2 separate regions of the Homo sapiens genome follow, and region 1 is linked to region 2. The links come from fine-mapping of genetic effects on gene expression. Tissue or cell type: tibial nerve. Region 2 holds a variant in brackets; the other region holds the start of a gene. All regions are shown on one strand. Distances are from middle to middle.

The links. PIP is the estimated chance that this variant, and not a neighbour inherited with it, causes the effect.
Region 1: NAGK starts here. The variant in region 2 is fine-mapped to the expression of NAGK in tibial nerve (GTEx, PIP above 0.99).

Annotation. Positions count from the first base shown.
Region 1 is chr2:71,064,191-71,072,190 of GRCh38, forward strand. It overlaps NAGK (N-acetylglucosamine kinase), which reads left to right and starts at 4,458. Exons shown (of 10, transcript NM_017567.6): 1 at 4,458-4,522; 2 at 6,312-6,396; 3 at 6,551-6,649; 4 at 7,496-7,637. The coding sequence starts at 4,494. RefSeq lists a silencer at 4,684-4,743.
Region 2 is chr2:71,464,915-71,473,174 of GRCh38, forward strand. It overlaps DYSF (dysferlin), which reads left to right and starts at 1,785. Exons shown (of 56, transcript NM_001130987.2): 1 at 1,785-2,019. The coding sequence starts at 1,929. The variant C/A (reference allele first, on the strand shown) is at 4,678.

The DNA.
Region 1 (8,000 bases), 400 kb before region 2:
CCCACATGCTCAGAAAAGAAGAGGGAGTAAACCAACCGGATTTGCTCAGGTTGCTGCCCTGGCCTGAGGCCCCACATCCCTCAGAACAACTTAAGATCAAGGCAGATAAGGTCCCTCTTTTCTTTCAGTTCCCTTACATGGCTGAAGAGACTTGAAGGACAGAACGTTTACAGCAGTTGTCTACGGCTGCCTCTGTGTTCTGAAGACCCCATGCACCCCTCGTCCCTTCTGGGTTGGGCCTGGCAGTCCCGTAGGCTGTCTTTCCCTTGCTTTGCAGATGCCAGCCCCAGAGTCCCACCTCCACCGTTGGTAAGGAAGCCCCTCACCCCTGCCTCTTTCAATTGTGGGAAAGTGAACTCCAGCCTCTCTCTCCTTCCTCATCCCAGATCAACAGCAGATGTTAGTATGACCCCCCTCCTGGCTCCCTCCGTGACTCCAGCTCTGCCCCCCACCTCCACCTCCACCTCCACCACTTGCTTGTTCATCTCTCACCTGGGCCAATGTCCAGCCTTCTAAGTGTTTCCCTTCTCCAAACTCTCCCTTCCCATTTGTCACCCTATAAGTAACCTGCCAGATTATTTTAAAGCACAGTGCTGAGGTCACACATGTACTGGCAACTTCTAATGCAAGACCGACTAGGGCTAGATCTCTTTGAGGCTCCCTGACCACACGTCCAACAACTCCTCCCTCAGTTCACAATTTCACTTCTCCTTATTTTCTCTTTCTCTTCCTGATCTGTTCTGTAAATTTAGTTTCTGCTGTGGAATTTGCTTGCTCCCTTCTTTAGTTCAAATCAGGCATTTGCTACCCCTCATGTCTGTGACACCGTGTTTATAGTTTATAAACCACTCTCAAAGCTATTTGTGGAGTACTGAGGTTAGCCCTGGACATGCTGTGGTGAGTAAAAACAGATGTGGCTGTGTTTCATGAATAAAGTCAACAAAATCTGTTGAGGACCCTGACCAAAAGTCATCTGTCCCAAAATCCTAAGTGGATTTGTGAGGAAAGATATTTTCCCATTGTCTCTCTTAACACTCTTCCCCCTGACTCCCAAACTATGGCCTCCCTGGGGTCATAGGAACAAAGTACAGAAGACAGAGAAGAAGACTGTGGCTTGCAGATTCTTAAAGAACTTTATTAACCTTGTGAGTGTCATAGAAGCAGCTACTGGGATGTTGCAAGCCCAGTGCAAACTGGTATATCTTGCTATATTGCAACATCTTGAATTTCCTTCCCTTTATATTAACTACCCACACATAATAAGCCACATCTATTATTTGTGTGAGCCTATGCTTTTTACTTTTATTTTAGAGCCTCTCGTTTCCTCATTTGTAATATGTGATCAGAAATCTGTCATTCTCGGCCTGCCGCGGTGGCTCACTGCTATAATCCCAGCATTTTGGGAGGCCAAGGCAGGCAGATCACTTGAGGTCAGGAGTTCAAGACCAGTGTGGCTAACATGGTAAAACCCTGTCTCTACTAAAAATACAAAAATTAGCTGGGCGTGGTGGCACATGCCTGTAGTCCCAGTTACTTGGGAGGCTGAGGCAGGAGAATCACTTGAACCAAGGAGGCATAGGTTGCAGTGAGCCGAGATCCCACCACTGCACTCCAGCCTGGGCCACAGAGTGAAACTCTGTCTCAAAAAAAAAAAATCTGTCATTCTCATAAGGTTGTTAGGATGATCAAACAAGATAAAGGTACATAAAAGAGCTCTATAGAATTATAATGTACAAGGCCGGGCACAGTGGCTCATGCCTGTAATCCCAGCACTTTGGGAGGCCGAGGTACGCGGATCAAAAGGTCAGGAGATCGAGATCATCCTGGCTAACACGGTGAAACCCCGTATCTACTAAAAATACAAAAAATTAGCCAGGCGTAGCAGCGTGCACCTGTAGTCCCAGCTGCTGGGGAGGCTGAGGCAAGAGAATGGCGTGAACCCGGGAAGCGGAGCTTGCAGTGAGCTGAGATCACGCCACACTGTACTCCAGCCTGGGCGACAGAGCAAGACTCTGTCTCAAAACAAACAAACAAACAAACAAACAAAAAGAATTATAATGTACAACATAAACGTATTTTATTTATTCTTTTTTTTTTTTTTTTTTTGAGACGGAGTTTCACTCTTGTCACCCAAGCTGGAGTGCAATGGCACAATCTTGGCTCACCACAACCTCCACCTCCTGGGTTCAAGTGATTCTCCTGCCTCAGCCTCCCAAGTAGCTGGGATTACAGGCGCCTGTCACCACGCCCAACTAACTTTTGTATTTTTAGTAGAGACAGGGTCTCGCCCTGTTGGCCAGGCTGGTCTTGAACTCCTGATCTTGGGTGATCCACCCCCTCGGCCTCCCAAAGTGCTGGGATTACAGGAATGAGCCACCACGCCCGGCTACTTTCTTCTTTAAATCAATTATATGGCCATTATTTATTTCATAAATAGGCATTCAGTGACTTTGAAATATTATGGTCCAGATAGAGACAACAGGGTTGTACAACAGAAATATGTAGGTCAAAATTTTAAATATTCTAGTAGTGACACTAAAAAATATAATAGATTGGCAAAATTTAGTAATCTATAATCTTGATCTACTACATCCAGAATGTTATTTCAACATGTGATTCATATAATAGTGACTAATGAGGTATCTTACACTCTTTTTTTGTAGTAAGTCTTTGAAATCCTGTGTGTATTCTACATTGACGGGACATCTCATTTTGGACTAACCACATTTCAAGTGCTCAGTATTCACATATGGATACTGTGCAGGACAGCACACACTAATTGGTAATGTAAATACAAGTTAGTTAAGATCTGTGAAGTACTTTATGGTTTCCAAAACTCTTTTGGCATTTAAATCTTGCGTCAGCCCCAGCAGGTAGATGTTTATCATTTCCATTTTGTAGAGGAGAGGCTGCAGCAATTACCTGTAAGTCACCCAAGCTCATCCAGCTAGTAAATGGTGAACTCAATTCTTGTCTTAAACCTGGGCACTTTCCCTTTTGCTTGCTTGCCTAAACAAGCAATACAAAGACAAACTTAATATTTATACACATACGTCCCATGGCTCATTGCAGTAGTACAGGACAGAAACAATTATTTCAAAATCCACCTACAATCTAGTCTCCAAAAATCCTGCCCAGTTTAATTGCACCACAATCTACTAACTGTAATTCTAAAAATGTGTATGTTGGATAATCTTCCAGCTCTAAAGTGCTGTGAATTAAAAAAATGCCATAGGCAGGCATAAAAAAATCCTACCCTCTATTATATTCTCCATCTGATATAGAATATATGATATATATTCTATAAATGAATACATGATACAGAGTCTATCATGTAGTGATTTACTTTTTACTTTTGTGAATTACAACGTGGTAGGGTAGGAAATGAGAAAGCTTAAAAAGCCTAATTTTCTCACTAAAGCATAACCAGACACAGCAGCCTATTAGGGGTTTCTCCAGAAGATGGCAGGCAGTCAAGGGGGACAGAGTTCGACCCGCGACAGGCCAACTGATTTCCCCAAAAAGATGCCAAGGGCAGCTAACCGCCCTCCTGGCCCGCGAAGCTGCTCCTTGAGGGCCCAAAACTTCCCGGAGGAGCCAGAGGAGGCCCTCAGGAGCCACAGCTCTCCCTGACTTGGCCTGTATTTGCACCCCTAGGGATCCCATTCCCTTTCCCGACGCAGCGCAAGGAAGGGGAGCGGAATGGGGGCTGAAAGGCAATAAAAAACTTGTAAAGCCGTATCTGCTAGTTCTCCCAGTGGGCTATGTCCCTGCAAATATCCTCCACAAGAAGTAAACTGGGTGGGTAGGAAGAGGTGAAGGCTCCCTCCTCAGGGCTGCCGGGACCGCCTCGAGGGCTTGTCTGTTTAGGTCCCAATTCCTCCCGGATCCGTACATTCACACGAGCGCAGGGCAACAATCTGAGCGAGTGTTCGTGTGTGCCCGTGTGACTCGCCATCGCGTGGCAGATGTTCAGTAGAACATTACAGTAATTTCTGTTACAGGTCCATGGGCGCAGGTCCCTGAGCCCACAGCTTCGCGGGGGTCTGGCCGAGCATGCGTCACAACCTACGCGGCCAAGAGCAGTGCGCACGCGCAACCTAACGCGGGACTGCCAGCAACTTCCGGGCGTTTACAGGCAGGCAGGTCAGTGATGTGTCCTAAGGGTCCGACCGACCTAGATACCCCTCTTTGATTCCTCCTCTTGGGATTAGTGTCCATCTCTGGAAGCAGGATCCAGGAGGACGGGAGGGGCCGCTGCGGACCGCAGTCGCTCCACCTGGAGGAGACACCAGAAGGAAGACAGCCTGAGGGACGCAGCCATCCCCGGCTCCTACCGGCGCCCCGCCCCGCGCATGCGCACGCGCACAGGGAGTCAGCTGGCTGCGCGGGAGGTCACGGGAAGTGGGGCGGTGCCCAGACAGCTGGAGGGAAGGAGGTGTCAGGCGGGGAGAGACGCAAACGGCGGGACCAGCAGCGACGGTAGCAGCAGCATGGCCGCGATCTATGGGGGTGTAGAGGGGTGAGTGCGGCCCGGCGGAGGGAGCCTGGGCCCGAAGGCGGGGCGGAAGGCCGTGGCCAGCCTGGCAAGCTGGTGGCCTTGATCCTCGGCGTCCGGGCACTTTGGGCGGCGGGACCTTGCGGTGAAGAGGTGTGTGCACGCGCAGGGGCGCCCTGGAGCGCACAGCTGTATGCCTTACGGGGACTCTGCCTGTGCAACAGCCACACCCCGGGTTGGGGATCCTTTGTGTTTCTTGGCGGAACCACGCCCCTTTCTTCCACGAAACACCCACTCCGCTGTCTTCAGCTGGAGAAGCAGCTCCTTTTTCCTATTCCTGACCTCGGACAGAGTTTTGCAGAACAGGTGTCAGGTGTGAAATTGCTGAGCGCGGGCAGGGTGGGGAGTGGGAGTGGGGAGAAGCGGGACAAAGATCTTGGCTGAGGTTATCCGGGAGCTGGAGCAGCTGCGAGCCAGAGTACTAGGTTGTCCTGATGTCTGAAAACCGCTCCATCCCTGTTGGCCTTCCATGCTGCTTTCACTAGATTGCATTTTTCTGCTCAGAAGCTTGTTTACTGAACTTTTTGTAATAGCTCTGCCCCTGGGTATGACCATGGACAAGATATTTACCCTCCCTGGGCTACAGTTACCGTATGTGCAAAGTGAGGATAGGGATAAATAAGATCGCTATGTCCCTGCCAGTGGCAACATTCTGTGAATCTGAGTTTGTCAAATCAGGGAATAATGGGGGTCGCTGGCCTCTCAGCCAGGGCACTGTACTTTCGAATCTGTGATTGTTTTCACTTCTCTGGCAGCCACACCCCACTGCTGATTCACAGACCCCAAAGTCTTTTCACATGAATTGTTAGGAATGATCTTTCCCATCCTGTATTTGTAGCACTTAAAAAAAACAGTATAGGAGTCTGCATTCATCCTTGTTATAGTCATCTGTAAGATATGACCCGTTTCTTCCAGTTCGTCAAGACATGCTTTTGGATGTGGAATCTGCCACCTCATGTATTAACTACCCCCTTGAAATTTCATGTCCTCTTTGAGTTTGATGAGCGGTCTTCAGTGTCTTCTTCTGCCATTCCTAAAAGTAATGATCAATAAAGAAACATATATCCCATCACCACAGATCTCCCTGTGAACTACTGTGACCCCCAGTAATCAACATTTGAAGGTTTAGTTGCTTAAGTATGTATGAAGTCACCCTGCCATCTGGTCAGCATTTCTAGCAAAGGTGTCTTGAAGACCTTGGCAGCTGGATCTTGAAATGCAGTCTTTAGCTATTGTGAGGGAAGCAGAGAGATGTGCCATTTTTCTTAGGAGTGTTTGCTGAGCATTGCCTGTGCCAGCTCCTGTGCTCGTTCTGAGAGGGTAAGTAAGTGATCAGGAGCTTGACCCAGTGGAGCTTGAAGTCTAGTGAGAGGCGGACACAAAGCGTCTGAACACACACTTCATACAGAGGAGACTTTAATAACTTTGGAGGCACTATGAAGGTTTAACTAACGGAGACTTAACTAATTCGTTGGGGTGGGCCACACCTCAGAAAAGGTTTCGAGGACTAGGTGAAGCGTAAGTAGAGTCTTGCAGGATAAGGAGGACATCCCCAAGGGAAGAGGAGTGAGAATTATGTTTCAGTTAAAGAGCACTCAAACACTGAACCACAGAGGCGGGTTTGGGAGTGGTGATTGAGTTTGTCGAAGCTGTCTCCTCCATCATACTGGGCTCTGCCAGTGTGGACAGCACAAGCTTAGCTCTCTCTGTGGGTTTTTCCGAGCAAGATCAAGTGCCCTCTTGTGTTCTGTAGGGGAGGCACACGATCCGAGGTCCTTTTAGTCTCAGAGGATGGGAAGATCCTGGCAGAAGCAGATGGACTGAGCACAAACCACTGGGTAAAAACCACACTGAGGGGATCAGAGGGCTTGGTTCTGATTTTATTCTCTGTAATTCCTGTTGAGGTGGTGGCTGGGACTCACAGAGCAGCCTGTGGGGGCAACATAGCTTCTGTAAGCCTTTGTAACTCCTTCTTCCCTTGATTGGGGCCAGCTGATCGGGACAGACAAGTGTGTGGAGAGGATCAATGAGATGGTGAACAGGGCCAAACGGAAAGCAGGGGTGGATCCTCTGGTACCGCTGCGAAGCTTGGTGAGTCTGGGGCGGAGCCTGGGAATTCAGCCATCTGTGACACTGAGACAGCTAGCAAGTTTGGACTAGATGAGTTTGATGACTGCAGAGGGAAAGACCTCCAAGACTTAGTCCCTGGTGTCAAAACTGTCATAATCTCACCCAGTCTCATGGCTTCAGTTGCCACCTACAAACTACAAATGTGTTGGAAGAGCACAGGGCTTTGGAGAGCTGCTGAGACCTTGGTTTGAATCCCAGCTTTGCTGCTCAGTATCTGCGTAACCCTGTGTAGGTTACTCACCTTCTCTAAGCCTCAGTTTCCTCATTTGGAAAATGTGAATAGTAGCTACCTCAGAGTTGTTGGGAAAGTAAAATGGCATGATACATTGCAAAGTGGTTAGTATAGAGCCTGACCCATAAGCACTCATTAAATGTTAGCTATTATTTACTCCTGGTTCAGATCTTTCTCCCAAGTTGCGGTAGCTCCAGCTACTCCCTGGACATATATGTGAGATGTTCTGCAGACACAGGCAAACCTCGTGTATACCAAACCAAGCTTACCTCTCTCCATCTCCCCTCACCTTGCCCCGCTGCCTGATCTTTCTGTTAAGAGCACTACTGCCCTTCCAAGCTCCAAAGCTGGCATTGTTGAATCCCCTCTTTCTTCTGTCCATCCCCAGTCCAGGTTGTTCTTATAACCACAGCCTTCTGAGGGGTCATTGTGTGGGGAGAAAGGAGGACTGGGGCTGGGTGAACAGGGTATGGCCAGATGGGGAGAACAGGAATCAGGCATCAGGAGGGGGCGGGGGTTGAGAAAAGAGCTGGGGCTGGGGCTCTGCACACTCGCTCACCTCCCGCGTGGCCTAGGGCCTATCTCTGAGCGGTGGGGACCAGGAGGACGCGGGGAGGATCCTGATCGAGGAGCTGAGGGACCGATTTCCCTACCTGAGTGAAAGCTACTTAATCACCACCGATGCCGCCGGCTCCATCGCCACAGCTACACCGGATGGTGAGGAAGTGGAGGGAGGGGTGAGAGTGAGAACTGGTTTTTTTGGGAAAGCCCCTTAGATATAGCTGACAAAACTTGTTCTGCAAATATCCAGAAGGCAGCCACTCTTATATTCCCCTCAACTCTTTAAGTAGTTTAAGTCTCTGCCAGAGCAAGGACCAGGCAGCAGGAGGAAGGGCAAGAAAGGTCTCTTGATGGGAATCCAGGAGTGGGGTCAAACATAACTCCCCTGCAGATGAGGGACCACCTGGGGGCGGTGTAGTGAGGAAGGCAGGCTGGGGAAGCTGTCAGTGCTGAGGAGGAAGTGGGGTGGCCTTGTGATAGTGTAAAGAGTTTTGGTGTCATGGGATTGGTGTTTGAATC
Region 2 (8,260 bases):
ATATTTTGAAGGAGAGTGGGAGGGGGATTTGCAGTTTTGGTGACCTGGTGGGGTTGAAGGTGTCACTGGGTGGGTTCAAGAGAGAATGGAGGAGGGAGATTGGAGACAGAAAGTATGGAGAGCTCCTTCAAAGGGCATTGTTGTGAAAAGGGAGAAATGACCAGTAGCTGAAGGGGATGTGGGGTCAACGGTGTGCTTTCTTGAGAGCAATAACATCATGCTTGTGTGCCGATGGGATGATCCGGTAAACAGGGGAACTTGGTAAGGCAAGAGAGTGAGAGAATCACTGCAGGCTCACCACTGAATGGGCGAGAGGGGATGGGGTCTATGCCCAAGTGTCCAGTTGTTACCAGTGGGGAGTACGGGTGATTCATTTGTAGGAACAGGAGAGAACTCACAGGATTTGGGCACAGATGCCGAGGGCGGGCGTTAGAAGGAGACTGGGGACCTGAAGAAGTTCTCTGCTCCGTAAAGAGGAAGCAAACTGAGAGTGAGGTTGGGCGATGGGGTGTCCTAGGGGCATCCGGGAGACAGGGAGACAAGACATATAGTATGATTGCCCCCAGCAGTGAGGGCTCGCTTGAGTTAAGGGTCATGACTACAAAAGGCACCACTCAGGCCGGCTGTGTTACTCTCCAACACAGCACTGGTTGGGGGCAGGTGTGGAGGAGGCGGAGTTGGATTCGCCAGGGTTATGGCTTAGCCCTGTGAGAATGCTGTATCCCTCAAAATAAGAGAGGGGAAAGGGAGTTGAGATTTTGCGCAGCAGTGCGTTTAGGCTGAGTGAGCAGGTTGGTTAGTGAGGACTTGGGCGGTGGGAAGACGGACAGTGCCCTGACAGGGGCTAGGTGCTGGAGTGCTGGGGGATAGAAGTGCGAAGCCAGGGCCCCTGTGTCAAGAAGTTCATACGCTGGAAAGGAACCAGACATAATAAGCGAAACGACTGTCACCGTTCATGGCTTACACCTTGAACAGCTTTCCACTGTGGAGACTAGGGAGTGTAGAGATTGTTGGGGATGGGGGACTTGCAGGGGACAGAATGGGCCGCAGCTGGACCCTAGTTCTCCAGGGAACGCAGTATGATTTGAATACAGATCTCTGCCTCCAGAGATGAGTGACTCGACACCGCTGCGGAGAAGGCTCCGAGGAGGGTTGGTGGGGACTCGAACCTCGGAGTCTCTCCCGACCCGGGGGTCCCAGCAAACCAGAACGGCCACCTAGACAGCCTGCGGACGGGAGAGGACCGGCTCCCTGGCGCAGATCATGGGGCAGGTGGAGAGAGGCGAGAGGCAATGAGGCGGGGGGCTCGGGGTGCACGGCACGCTCCGCACACTCCCCCTTCAGCGCTCACTCAGACTTGGTTTCCCCGAAGACACACTCTCGTCCCCGCCGCTGATTGCCCACTCCTTCCGCCTGCACTCCTGCCTCCTTCTCACCCTTTCGTCGAGCGCACAGGGCGGCTGCCAAGTCGGCACCGGTGCGCACCGGGCCCGGGATCCCTGGCTGGTGTGGAGCCTTGGTCACCGGAGGCCCCCGCGGAGCAGGCCCCACGGCGCCTTGTGCGCTCTCGGAGGCCGAGCTGCGCGCCCGCGTCAGCGGCGCCTCGTTCCTGGCCGGGAGCTGGGACCCGCGGAGCTAGGGACCAGCACCCCCACAGGCGCCCGTCTGACCCCTGTCCCTCCCCGCCCGCCGCGGGCAGGGCGGATCTGGGTAGGGGCCGGAGGGGGAGGGTCCGCCCAGCGGGTGTCCGGTGTCCTCCCTGCAGCCTCTCCCAGGCATTGGTCACTTCTCCGCGGAGGAGCAGCGAAGGCGACAGCTCTCTTGGCGCGGCTGCCTGGGAGCCGGGCGCTTGCTGGGTGGGTGCTCGGGCCCGGTGCTCCCGCTCCCGCCCTGACTGCGCGCCTGTGTGCCGCCGGGGCTGCCCAGCCATGCTGTGCTGCCTGCTGGTGAGGGCCAGCAACCTCCCCAGTGCGAAGAAGGACCGGCGCAGCGACCCTGTCGCAAGCCTGACTTTCCGAGGTGAGAGCCCCGTGGCTGCCGCGCCCATGCTCGGGTGCTACCCGACTCTCGGCGCTCACTGGCGGGTCTGAAGCCCCTGCTCCGGAGCTAACCCTAGTCCAGGCCACAGTTTCTCCCTTTGTCAGCAGGGACGGAAATCCCAGCCCCGACTTCTGCAGGGGGGCGATGAGGAATAAGCAGAGCACAATAAATGCCACAGGGCTTTGAAAAATTGGAAAAGCGAAAGTGCCGTAGGTCAGCGGTTATCACTTTTCTAAGACTGACACCCAGAGGAAATAAAGTCCGAGCTTTTACTGGGTAGTGGGGATAAGGGTAAGTTGGAAGATGGGTGCAGAAGGTAGAGAGGAATCAGGGCCTCTGAAAAACGGGGCGTGTAGATGATGTGCTTTGAAAGTTGTGTCTTTTTTCATTCATTCATTCATTCATTCACCCATCTTTATCCAACATTGGCTGTATTGAATCTGCCCCGTCTTAATCAGTAGGAAAAGGAACAGAATAGGATGGAAATGGCCTTGACACAAGGAGTTTTGAGGAATGTCAAGGATATTTTCTCTAAATTCAAGAAGCTAAGTCCCTACATGTAGTGCTTAGAATACATACAGGTATTTCTGTGTGGGGCAGCAGAGAAATCACACACACACTCCTCTTCTCACCAGGCGTCCTGAACCCCCTCCCCCAACCCCTCCAAGGCAGATTCCCACTGGAGCGGGTGTCTCAGGAGGGGAAAGGGAAGAGGAAGGATCTGTCAAAATTAAGAGAAGGAACAATAGCTGTGAGTCAGGACCCCAGTTCTGCAGAGAAAGATAAATCAGGAGAGGAAAGAGGGTTTCCACTTAGCCAGGAGCCATACCCTGTAGCTTTGTGGAATCGATAATAATAATAATAAAAATCTACGTATCAGAAAAGATAGTCAAATGAAGAAGGAAGAGTAGCTGGTGTTTTCATAAGCCTCCTTCAGTGCAGGCACCAAGGGAACTCTTTTCAGTCTGACCCATGATCTGAATCATATCTCCAAGCACCCCCAAGATAATGATAGATGAAAGACATGATTTGGCAAAGGGAGATTTATGTGTAGCTTTTATTCTTTGCTGTGGGACAAGTTATATGTATTCCTCTTTTGAAAGATGTGATTTGAAACGTTTAAGAAAATTTCACTATTTTCATTGATTGGTGACATGCCTGGGAGTTCACTATGCAAGAGCAACTTCAAGACAAAGTCTTTCCTTCTCCAGTGTCCACCTGATGCTGCCTAAGGCTTTGCTATGCAGAAATTGCGGTGTCACCATTGGCTGGAAAAGAAATTCCCTAAGGACACTGGGCAGGGCACACATTAGCATAGGGCTCTGGATGCTCTAACACTCGTTTGGGTCTGCTCACAGCTCTTTCCCTTGTCCTGTAACAGTCCTGTGGTGGCTACCAATGTCTCCATTCTGCAAATAAGGAAATTGAAACCCAGGGAAGTTAAATGTGTTCAGGTCAGTGGTCATGGCAGGGAGCTACCAGCGCTTGGAGTGGGTATTGCCCTTGAGTCGGGAAGATGACCAAATCCCTTGAGGCCCCTCTTTACTATTGCCCTCGCCCAAGTACCCCGAACACGTGCAGCTGCTATCTCCCCCCAGATCTCTGTATTCCTTCTTTGTAATGCCTTACTATTTATTTGCACTGATGATCTCCTCGGAAAACAGAAATACCATACAATAGAATGTAACATCTCCAACCGTTTCAAGTCTATTTGTATTTCAAAGCCCAGGGCAATGCCACCTTCTCCAGGAGGACACCCTGGATCCCCCTGGCTCTCAAGAGTCTCTCCTCTCTGGATGACAAGCAGCAGCACCTTGCTAGGGATGCTAGCACCCTCGCCCTGACTGGCCTGTGCTCAGCTCCATGCTTAGGTGCCTTGAGAGCAGTGACCTGTCCTATTTGTTCATTGGTTTGTCCCAGTGCTGAGCACAAGTAGGTGCTCTCTAGTGTTTGTGCGCTTTCTGGCCCAGCCTCTAGCCATCCTCCAGGTGTGCCTGGGAGCTTCATTTAGTCTGGGACATGGTCCGCTCACTTGATTGTTCCTGAGAATCACTTGTAGAACGTGTTTGAGAAACAGATTCCAGAGTCCCCATCTGTAGAGGTTCCGATGCAGCAGGTCTGGAAGGTGACCTAAGAATCAGCACTTAACAAATACCCGATGCAGGTTATTTTGGAACCGCATCTTGGGAAAAATGGGTCTGAGATGTGATGGCAGGTGAAATTAATGCGCTCCCCATTGCGGGAGCATTCACTGGGGAGTTTGGGGCTGAGTTGATGCCTAAGGAGGGAAACCGTTAGAACCAGGTTCAGAACTTACAGAGCATGTAGGCTGGGGGGACTCAACTCTGGCTGCAGGTCAACATTGTGTGTGGGAGCTTCACCAAAGACCACTGCCAACCTCCCTGCCTGCCTTTTCTGAAGCCAGATCCCTTCCGGTGGGGCCCCAGGCATAGGTGTTGTTTCTGTCAAATTTCCAGGTGTTTTGAATGTGCAGTCAGGGTTGAGAACCACTGAGCCCAGCTCCTCATGGCACAGATGGGACAGTGGCCTGCTTGCAGAGAAGCCAGCCTGCACTGTGTGTTTGGCTCCTACAGGCAGCCTGAAATGTATGGGGCTGGGCTGGCCCCACTTTCCTTG[C/A]AGTTGTTCCCTGTCTCGGATGTAATTTCAGGACCTGCCTCCCAAAATAGACTATGAGCTCTGGGAGGCTGGACTCTGAGGGCAATTTTTTGGCTTCCCTGTCTAAGCACCTCTATTAATAGTAGAGGCTACTAATGAATACTTCTCATTCTTTTGTTTTTCTATTAATTAATTCATTAACTAAAACTACCATGAGTAACTGGGCCATAGTAGATATTTTTGACTGATTGTGTCAACGAGCAGCTTAATTTCCTATAGCATTTAATTGTCTGTACTTCTTTTCTGCCCTGCCCATTTTCCATTCCTTAATGTGATTATTTATATCCCTCTATTCATGCAGTTAGTTCATTGAACAAATATTTACTGAGTACCTACTACGTGCCTGGTGCTTTTCTAGGTGCTTGGATGCATACAAGAACAAAACCAGATCCCTACTGCTTTAAAGCTGAAACATCTTATTTCCTTGAAGGCCAGATCTGCTGCGTCCCCACTTGGTGAATTTCTGCCCTGTGTCATCAGCCAGGAACCCAGAAGTCATTACTGACACTTCCCTCTCTCTCATCCTGTCAGGGCGTCTCCTCCTCCAGCCTCCCCCTCCCACCTCTTCTCTTCTTGATCTCCTGGGGGTCTCTAGATTTGGGGCAGGAGTTGGGGGATCTTATAGAACTAGTTGGAGGTGGATTCCTGTCGTCAGGGAACACTCTTAACTCACCTATGTAGGGAAAGTGGGCTGAAGGCCCCGGACTCTCTGAACCTAGCTGTTTACATATTACAAATGACTTAAAATATTGAAAACAGCGGCCAGGCGTGGTGGCTCACGCCTGTAATCCCAGCAATTTGGGAGGCCAAGGCGGGTGGATCATGAGGTCAGGAGATCGAGACAATCCTGGCTAACATGGTGAAACCCTGTCTCTACTAAAAATACAAAAAAAATTAGCCGGGTGTGGTGGTGGGTGCCTGTAGTCCCAGCTACTCGGGAGGCTGAGGCAGGAGAATGGCATGAACCCAGGAGACGGAGGTTGCAGTGAGCCAAGATTGAGCCACTGCACTCCAGCCTGGGTGACAGAGTGAGACTCCATCTCAAAAAAAAAAAAAAAAAAAAGAAAAGAGCTTTCTCTTCTCTTCCTTCTTTCCTTCCTTCCTTCTTTCCTTCCTTCCTTCCTTCCTTCCTTCCTTCCTTCCTTCCTTCCTTCATTCCTTCCTTCTTTTTTTTTTTTGAAATGGACTTTCACTCTTATTACCCAGGCTGGAGTGCAATGGCACGTTGTCGGCTCATTGCAACCGCCGCCTCCCAGGTTCGAGTGATTCTCCTGCCTCAGCCTCCCGAGTAGCTGGGATTACAGGCACCTGCAACCATGCCTGGCTAATTTTTATTTTTATTTTTAGTAGAGATGGGGTTTCACCATGTTGCCCAGGCTGGTCTCAAACTCCTGACATCAGTCAATCCACCCACCTTGGCCTCCCAAAGTGCTTGGATTACAGGTGTCAGCCACCCCGCCTAGCCTGTTTTCTTTTTATAAACATAATATGTACTTGCTGTTAAAAATGACAAACTACAGAAAGGCCATGAGGCAAGAGTAAAAAATAGCCCCAAATCCTGCCACTTTGAATTAACTTGTTAACAATTTGACACATTTCCTCCAAGATTTTTTTTCTTAAAAATTTTAGTTATAAAATTTAACATACAAGGAAAGTGCAGAAGATATAAATATATGATTTAATACAGTAGTTCTCAACTGGGGGCAGTTTTTTCCTCAGATGACATTTGCCAATGTCTGGAGACATTTTGGGTTGTTGCCACAGGGGTTGGGGGCACAGGGTGTTTATCTACAGGGTAGAGGCTGAGGATGCTGCTAGACATTCCACAGTGCAAGGGGAGGTCCCCCACACCAACCACAGAGTGATTCAGCCCACATAGTAATCATGCCACGGTTGAGAATAAATATGTGTGTGAAGAGAATAACTATGTAATATCACCCAGGTCAAACAGGTCAAGAAATAGCACCTGGCCAGCCCCATTTCTCCACCAGAAGTAATCCCATCATAGATTTTTTTTTTCCCAAATGTTTGCACATTTGCTGAAAAATAAACCAGGGGGCCGGGTGTGGTGGCTCACGCCTGTAATCCCAGCACTTTGGGAGGCTGAGGTGGGCGGATTGCTTGAGGCCAGGAGTTCCAGGCCAGCCAACAGGGTGAAACCCTGTCTCTACTGAAAAATACAAAAATTAGCCAGGCATGGTGGTGTGTGCCTGTAATCCCAGCTACTTGAGGGGCAGAGGCACAAGAATCGCTTGAACCCAGGAGGTGGAGGCTGCAGTGAGCCGAGATCTCACCACTGCTCTCCAGCCTGGATGACAGAATGAGACTCAGTCTCAAAAACATCAATTAATTAATTAAAAAAAAATCCAGGGTCATTTTTTATGTCAGTAAGTATTCTTCTATAACACCTTTATAAATATCTGCGTAATATTTTCTTATATGGATGCACCATCATTAATTTACTCAACCCCCTACTGATGAATATTTAGGTTATATAAGTGTTTATATTTATATCCAGTGCTTAAATTATACAGTCACTGTGAGGCATATTCTGGTGACTACATCTTTGGCCACATATTTAATTATTTCCTTTGGGTAAATACCAGAAGATGAATTGCTATGTCAGAGGTTATAGACAGATTTAATGCGTTGCTGCATTTCCCAAATTGTTCTTGAAGTCTGTATCAACTTTATCCTCCTGTCAGCCAAGTATGAGGGCTTATTTTTCTAATAATCCTGCTAACACACAGCATTGTCCTGTAAATCTTTGACACTTTCTTTCTTTTTTTTCTTTTTGACAGAGTCTCATTCTGTCGCCCAGGCTGGAGTGGAGTGGCGCGATCTCGGCTCACTGCAAGCTCTGCCTCCCGGGTTCACGCCATTCTCCTGCCTCAGCCTCCCAAGTAGCTGGGACTACAGGCGTCCACCACCACGCCAGGCTAATTTTTTGTATTTTTAGTAGAGACGGGGTTTCACCATGTTAGCCAGGATGGTCTGGATCTCCTGACTTCGTGATCCACCCGCCTTGGCCTCCCAAAGTGCTGGGATTACAGGCGTGAGCCACCGCGCCAAGCCAACACTTTCTTAAGGTTCAAATAGTATTTGTGATACTTCATTGTTATCACCTATTCGTATTTATTCTTACTGAATTACTTTTTCATTTGCCCATGGTGGAGCATGTTTGTCTTTTTCTTCATTAGTTGCAAGTGCTCTTTATGTATTGAGAATGTTACCGTTTTTGTCATAGATGTTTCTAGTATCTTCTCCAGTTCTGTTTGTTTTTCTTTAATTGGCAAGTAAAAATTATATGTAAATATCTTCCCCAGTTCTAATGTAAATATCTTCCCCAGGCCTTCTGAGTTTAAAGACTACTCTTCTTGAAGTGCATTTCACCCTGGCTCCCTCCCTTTTTGGCCACTTCTGTGGTTCCAGCTAGGATTTAGGAAGGTGGGGTGGAGGGTGGTTGACGGGGAGAGGAGCAGTGCTCTGCTGATGATAGGGGAGACAGCTGCCCAGTTCTTGGGGTGTCCAGGCCTGAGAACAC